Linked DNA regions of Homo sapiens. The protein of the gene in region 1 purifies or fractionates together with the protein of each later gene. This does not show direct contact. Each region holds a gene or a part of one and is shown on either strand. Other genes may lie near its edges.

Region 1 (3,500 bases):
CTCCCAAGGTGCTGGGATTAAAGGCGTGAGCCACCGCGCCTAGCATATGTTTATTTTTAATTTAGAACTCATCGTGGCTTGTCTATATACATTGGAATAATGATGTGACACACAAACTGTTGTGAAAAATGTCAGTTACTTTGAATGTAAGCATTTTTTCCAAAATCACTTATGTGTCTAAACCAATTCCTTCTATAAATCAGTAAGAAAATGATAAAACAATTCAACAGGAAAATGAACAAAGGCCAGAAAACTCAGAGAAGAAACACAAATGTTCAATAAACATATAAAGATACTAAATTAAATTCATGAGTAATCAGAAAAATTCACATTTAGATGGAATCCCTTTTATTCATCCATAACTTCAGCAAAAAGTTGGAGAATACCCAGCGGTGAAAAGGTGTTGGGAAATGAATGCTGTCATATTCTGCTGACAATAGAGTAAGTTGGCACAAAATTTTTGAAGGCAATTAAAATTTTATATCTACATAGTCTTCACCCCAAGAATTCCATTTCCAGATATCTATGCTACAGGAATACTTGCACATGTTCACAAAGAAGCATGTACAGGGATTTCATTGCAGCAATGCATGTAACAAGAAAACTAAGCATAATCTAAACATTCATCAATGGGGGAATTATTAAATAAACCATGATGCATCCATACTATGGATTATGCAGGAGTTTAAATGAATGGGGTGACCCTCTCAGTACTGGGAAGGAAAGAAATCTAAGGCATATCATGAAGTGAAAGAATCAAGTTGCAAGATGTTACCCTTTATGCGAAGAAAAAATTTTAAAACCACAAAACAAATCTATTTTGCTTTATGTAAATATGTATGTAGGTAAATGAGGAAAAGTCTGGAAGCATGTATACTAAATGCAGAGTAGCATTACTTCAGGGATGAGGGAGTAGGGCACAAGGAGAGTTTTTGTTATATCTGTTATTGCATTTTTATATATTAAAAATGGAATCATGGGCTGCGGGTGGTGGCTCATGCCTGTAATATGAACACTTTAAGAGGCCAAGGTGGGAGGATCACTTGAGCCCAGGAGTTCAAGACCAGCCTAAGCAGCATAGGAAGACCCTGTCTCTACAAAAAATACAAAATTAGGTGGGTGTGGTGGCATGCACCTGTGGTCCCAGCTACTGGGGAGGCTGAGGTGAGAGGATCACTTGGGCCTGGGAGGTGAAGGCTGCAGTGAGCTGTGATTGTGCCACTGCACTGCAGCCCAGAGGACAAAGTAAGACCCTGTCTCTGAAAAAAAAAAAAAAAAAAAAAAAAAGAGAACAAAAAGGAATATAACCATGTACTATTTGTATGATAAAAAATAAATTTAAATTGCCTCTTATTTTAAAGAGAGCCTACCAAATTTAATTTTAAAATAACCATACAATTGCAATCAACAGTGGTTGATTTGGGGCGTGGAGGAGAAATATCTTTCCTCAGAGGTACCGACCTCAAAATTCTGGACCAAGAAGGATCTTACAATGCAGTTAGCTTTTTGTCATATTTGGAGAGAATATACTCACAGTTTCTCGGTCCAACTGTATGCTTTCCATACATTTCCATCAATGTAAGAAATATAGTTTCCTTGGAAATTTCTGTGAAGAAACACAGTTTATATCCTTGAATAGGTAGGAAAACAATGAACACGATAAGTAAAAGAATCATTGCAATCTTGTTGGGGATATTCAGAAACAGAAAATAACACCTGCTTTCTCATTTCCAGAGCTATCAGCTTCCCAGTTTGCACAATTCATCAAGAAATTATGCGGGGTCACCGGCACAAATGATGAGGCATCTCCTGGAAGCTTAACTTCTTATCCATCCCATCTCTTGGACAGATGATGCCAGTTAATTACTTTGAATGTAAGTATTTTATCTAAAAGCACTTATGTGTCTAAACAGACTTCTACAAATCAGTACCAAAATGGTAAATAATTCCACAGAAATATGGGCAAAAGCTTATCATTATCAACAAATGAGAAGAAAGAAACCCTATGCCAGGTAACACCAAAGCTTTGGCCCAGTGCCCTCTGTTGAAACATCCTAGGCTTTTTCTTTCCACTCCTATTACAACTGATCTGATTTGGCCCCTTCACACCTCACTCCTAGATTTTGCTAGACCTTTCTATTTTGTCTCCCTGAATTAAGCTTTTCCTTTTGGACACTTTACATATGGATTCTAAAACAATCCTCTGCATGTCTACACTTGCACATAATGCAAAAAACAAAATAAAATAATCTTCCTGTTTTGATCATGTAATCTCTCTTGCTTGGAAACTTTCAATGGCTTTCCATACCTCATTGTGTAACTTTCAAACTCCTGTAGCTGATAATCAAGGTTTTACAGAATCGTATCTTCATTGCTCCCTCACCTAATTCTTTGTAGCCACATTGGTCTACTAAATTCCAACCATACCTGTAGCCATGCGTTTGCCTAGACTGTACTCCCATTTTTCTCCTATTTAACAAATTATGGCTACTCTTTAAGACCCAAGTAAAGTTTTAGCTTACCCATGTAGCATCTCCACACCTCAAGGATCACAGATTCTGGCAAATTCTAGCACCAATGGTCTGCATTATCTTTTAGTACTTAATTATATATACCTCCCTTTTTATGCCTATTCTCTTTCTTCCCTCCTATCATTTTTTTTTTTGAGATGGAGTCTTGCTCTGTCGCCCAGGCTGGAGTGCAGTGGTGCAATCTCGGCTCACTGCAAGCTCTGCCTCCCAGGTTCATGCCATTCTCCTGCCTCAGCCTCCCGAGTAGCTGGGACTCCAGGCACCCACCACCATGCCTGGCTAATTTTTTTCTGTATTTTTAGTAGAGATGGGGTTTCACCATGTTAGCCAGGATGGTCTTGATCTCCTGACCTCATGATCCGCCCGCCTCGGCCTCCCAAAGTGCTGGGATTACAGGCGTGAGCCACCACACCCAGCCTCTTCCCTCCTATCATTTTCGTGTTCTGGAGACAGTAGCATACTTGGCCCTGGGTTTGACATAAAACTAGTTCTACATATAGAAAGCTAGGGACAAAAATGAGTTCTGGACAAAACTAAAGGACTGAATAATCATGTGAACAGCCAACTCTCCTACATATGCTAAGCACTGATGAAGTGTTTCATATATTCACTCACCTAAATTTCACAACAATCCTATGAAATGCTAACTAGCATGATCCCCAGTTTAAAGGTGAGGAAATTGAGTCACAGGCAGAATAACTTGCTCTGGGTCACCAAGCTAATAAATAGATCTGGGTTCAAACCCAGGCAGCCTGGCTCCGGAATCAACTCTTAACCACTTAGAGCATCATCACTGAGATCGGGAGAGGGACAGGCTGCTGTAAAGAGGGTGAAGCGAAAATGGGAGGAGAGCAGCGGTTAAGCAATGATGTGATGGGGCTAAATAAAAATGGATACAAAAACGAGTAAAAGACCAGAGTAAAAGGAAAAGACTGGAGAAGGGGCCTAACATTAAAAGAGAATGAGGAG
Region 2 (4,080 bases), on another chromosome or scaffold:
TCTGACATTCTGACTTCATTGTACACTCAGATTCTGTGTATTTGCCTTGGGAATTTTCCTCACACCAAGAAATCAATAAAAGCTAAGTCACTTAGCAATGAATAGTACTAGTAGAAATAATTGCTATAAATTAAACTGGCAGTAGCTAATGTAGCAAATTGTGAGGAAGATCTTTGGTTGGGTGAATAAAGTTTCAGAGGACAATATAATGACCCCAATGCAAGAAGATTGTGTTAAGTGAAAGATGTGGGAGCCTGGTGCTTCCTTCCCTACTTCTCCCAGTCCTTCACACACTAAAGCATGCCCCAGAGAGGATGACAAGGATGGATACGAATGGAGAACCACGTCATTCATTATAAGGAACTGTAGCAAGCCCTGGGAAGATTTTACTAGAAAATTAGAGGAGACTGGGCAGGATTTTGCCCGTAAGTATTAAAAAGCGGGGCTACATTGGTAGGGCTTGGTGGGAGGGATCCCAGAGCAAAGAACTCTGGAGCCATTGAGGAGGAAGGTTGACAGAAGAAAGGGCCAAGAAGAGAGACCTGGGAACGACTGTTAATGACTGTTAACGTTAAATATATATATATATATATATATATATATATTTTTTTTTTTTTTTTTTTTTTTTTTTTTTGAGACAGGGTCTTGCTTTGTCACCCAGGCTGGAGTGCAGTGGCACAATCTTGGCTCACTGGAGACTGTTAAATATTCTAATACCACCAAATTCTTTATCTCATTCAGTCCTCATAGCAATGTAAGAGGAGGATATTATGATCATTATCCCCACTGAAGCCCAGCATGGTTGGGTGCTTGCTGGGGTCTCACTGGAAGCCACACAGCACAAACTCTGCCCAGAGTTTCATTGATTACCCTGTGTGATGTGGCATCCATTCCATTGGCCTCCCAGAGATAGCTCCACAAACTCTCAGAAAAGACTGGAATAGAGAGCTGTGCCAGTGGGCAAACCTCCCCTGTTCTAGCTGTTCTGGGACAGGGCTCAGGGCAGGGCCTGTAGACACCTGGCTTCGTCCATCCCAGGAAAACAAAGTTGGAAAATTCCTGTCTGTCCCTGCCCTGGTGGCCACATGTCCTGCCTCTGTGGCTGGGCCGGGGACAAGCGTGTAGGCTTCAGGTACAGGGCTTCCTAAGTCAAGGGTTTCAGGTCGCACTGGAAAATCATTTTGCAAGCAGATGTCATAGGTCTCCTCTTAGACTGGACGGCACGCAAGGTCAGCGTCAGCAGATCTGACCCTAAAAATAGGCCTCTGTTGCCAGTGGGGGTGGCTGGGCGTGCGGCTGCTACATGCCCCACGGACCAGAACCTCCCGACGCGGCCAGGCCCCGGCACACCCAGGTAAGGCCGCTGGGTGGGGAGGCCGGCACCCCTTGGGTTCACCCACGTGTTCTTTGGGGGCCTGGGTGTGGGGATTAGAAGCCCCTTTTCCACCCTGTTCCTGGTGCTGTGGGGAATAGCCGACCTCCTTCTAGTGTGAAAGGTTTCTTGCTGTCCTTTTACGAGAGACACCATGGAATTTTCTCCATTTCCCTTTCTCCAAATCTGAACTTCCAGTTCAACGACCATTTCTAAAGGATAATGGGGTGGATTAAAGCTCATCGAGCCCTTGTGAAGCATTGGATGTATTGTATCATATTCCACATTCCAACGAGGTTCTACGTTTGTCCATTTAGCCAGTAAAGGGGGAGAAATCTCGGGGGCGAGAGAGAGAGAGGCCCTGGAGTGACTCGGATCCTGTGTAGGGCAGCATCAAAGACAAGAAAGTACTTAAAGCTCCAGGGATGAGAATTCTCCCTGTGTCCCAGGTAACACAAAAGCGTCATTTGGACAGAGTGGCGGGTTTGGGAGCATTTCTCAGTCCTGGTGGGAGGATGGGGTTGGGGATGACGCTGCCGTGGTAGAGATGGGGGGTGGGACTGGGTCATGAAGGATCAGAGCCACTGGACCAAGAGTGTAGGCTGTACCGCGTGTGGGCAGGAGGCGGGATGGGCCTGTGTCTCAGACCTGTGTGGGCAGGAAGTGGGACGGGCCTGCGTCTCAGACCAGGGCTCTCCCATTAGACCCTGGTGCCCTTGTGCTGTGACCCCAGGGGTCCCTTCATGGGCCTGGAACCCAAGAACAGTTGGGCCCGGGGGCTCTGATCGTTCGGGAAAGCGGAAAATGCTCCAGCGAACAGGAGGAAGGGCACGAGGAGGATGTCTGGAGAGGTTGCCACACTCACGGCCGCCAGCACCTGAGGGTCCCTGGCCCTGGATGTTTTTTCCGCTGCCCCCACCTTTAGCTTGTGATCCCTCCTTGTTCTCATCATGAGAATATCATTTGGTCCCACCGACAAATCCGAGGACTCTGACATTAATAAACAACACTTGAAGGGCTTCTGAGCTGAGTTCTTAACAAGGAAGGCGCGTTGGGCATGGAGGCTGGGGTGGACATGGGGTGGGTCTGAGGAGAGTTAGTGGGAGTGAAACAGGAAAGGTTCCTTTGTCCCTCTCACAGGGCATGCGACGGGGGTGTGGCTCGCTTGTTCAGTACCCAGCTGCTCAGACCTCTAGAGGAGCATACAGACGGGCAGGCTGTGGGGCTCTGACCCCATGGCAGTGTCTAGGGGTGAATGTTTACAGCTGAAGCCCCAGTGGGTGTGTGTTACAGGGTGCTCTTTTAGTTTGCTGTCTATAGGCGGCTTGTGTTAACTGGCTCAATTAGACCTCCTTCCTTATCACAAGGACAGAGGGATTTCTGTATCCTGGGGTTTCTTGCCTTGGTGTAGGGGAAGAATCAGATCACATGTGGGCTTGGAGAAGAGTGCAAGGTTTTATTGAGTAGAAGTAGCTCTCAGCAGATGGGGGAGCCAGAAGGGAGACAGTTTTTCCCTGGAGTTGGGCCACTCAGCAGCCGACTCTTCTCCTCCAACCGCTCTGGCCAAACTCCGCATCATTCCGCTTGTCAATGGCCTGCAGGCCTGCCAGTGCCTGTCGGCGTGATCTTCTGCCGGCGCGCTTTTGACAACCAGCCGCTTGTGTCTTCTGCCTATGTGTTCCTCAGTACGTCCAGCCGGTTGTGTGTCTCAGGTTTTTATAGGCACAGGATTGGGGTGTGGCGGGCCAGGGTGGTCTTGGAAAATATAACATTTGGGTGCGAAGGCAGGAGTGCCTGTCCTCACCTGGGTCTGTGGAGGTGGAGCCCTGGCCAGGGACCTGCCTTTCTCTACCCAGCACTTCCTGGCCCTCCTCCGGTATCAGGATCTCACTTGGCTCTGAAGGATCTTCATGGGCAAAGGCAGATCTGCGCTGAGGGTGAGGAGAGAGCCAGTGGTCCTCTGCCATCAGACAAACTGGAGCCCTTACTGGGGACATTTCAGTCATGGCTGACACCTGGGTTGGGTGGGAACCTGGTCCTGTCTGCGGGTGGCACTCCCGTGGCTGTTGTTGACCCCACAGTAGATGAGGGGCTTAGGGGAGGCCCTGAGGCCAGGGGCTGGGCTGTGAGCATCTTCCAGCAGCCCCAGGGAGGCCCAGTTGAGTCCACCAGGGTGGGGGTGAGCAGCCTCCACCAAGCCTTCCCCAGACACTGCGGCCCCGAGGCCTGGCGGTGTTTCCTGTGCTATGTGTCTGGCACTGTTCCAAGAGCTTTCCTGACAAGCAGGAATCATTTATTCCTCAGAATTGCAGCAGCTTAATGAGGGATGGACAGCACAGCCCCATTTCAGATTGGACACGGAGACACAAATACTAAGTGTTCTGCCCAAGGTCATGCAGCCTAAACAGGGGCAGAGGCCAGAACCCAGCGTGCCTCAGAGTTTCGGGGTGTAGCCCCTTTGCTCTGGTGCCTCTCATTGGGGTAGAGGCCTGGTGGCATCTCACTCTCCTACTCCTCTCAACCCCTAAACTCCAACCAGGGCCCCTGTCTCAGGGAGGCCCGGCCTGGAAACAGCCACTCCAGGTTCCTGGGCCAGGAGTTAGCTGTTTGTCCTCTTCGGCCTGATTTCAGAGCAGATGGTGTTTTAATCTCCTCTTCTGGTGACCATTCACGTTTCTGGGCCTACCCGTTCCACAGTAACGAGGGGG

The links. The genes of interacting proteins can lie anywhere in the genome.
Region 2: the proteins of LRRC37A2 (region 1) and DUSP29 purify together in Homo sapiens (affinity purification with mass spectrometry; one large-scale study listed by BioGRID and IntAct). This does not show direct contact.

What each region holds. Positions count from the first base shown.
Region 1 is NC_000017.11:46,515,468-46,518,967, reverse strand, and holds part of LRRC37A2 (leucine-rich repeat-containing protein 37A2 isoform 1 precursor), read right to left. Parts: intron 2,267-3,500; exon of another isoform or gene 1,955-2,266; intron 1,875-1,954; exon of another isoform or gene 1,854-1,874; coding exon of another isoform or gene 1,735-1,853; intron 1,607-1,734; coding exon 1,535-1,606; intron 1-1,534.
Region 2 is NC_000010.11:75,070,843-75,074,922, reverse strand, and holds the start of DUSP29 (dual specificity phosphatase 29), read left to right. Parts: upstream 1-1,280; 5' UTR 1,281-1,354; intron 1,355-1,689; exon of another isoform or gene 1,690-1,821; intron 1,822-4,080. UniProt on the Homo sapiens protein: Dual specificity phosphatase able to dephosphorylate phosphotyrosine, phosphoserine and phosphothreonine residues within the same substrate, with a preference for phosphotyrosine as a substrate. Involved in the modulation of intracellular signaling cascades.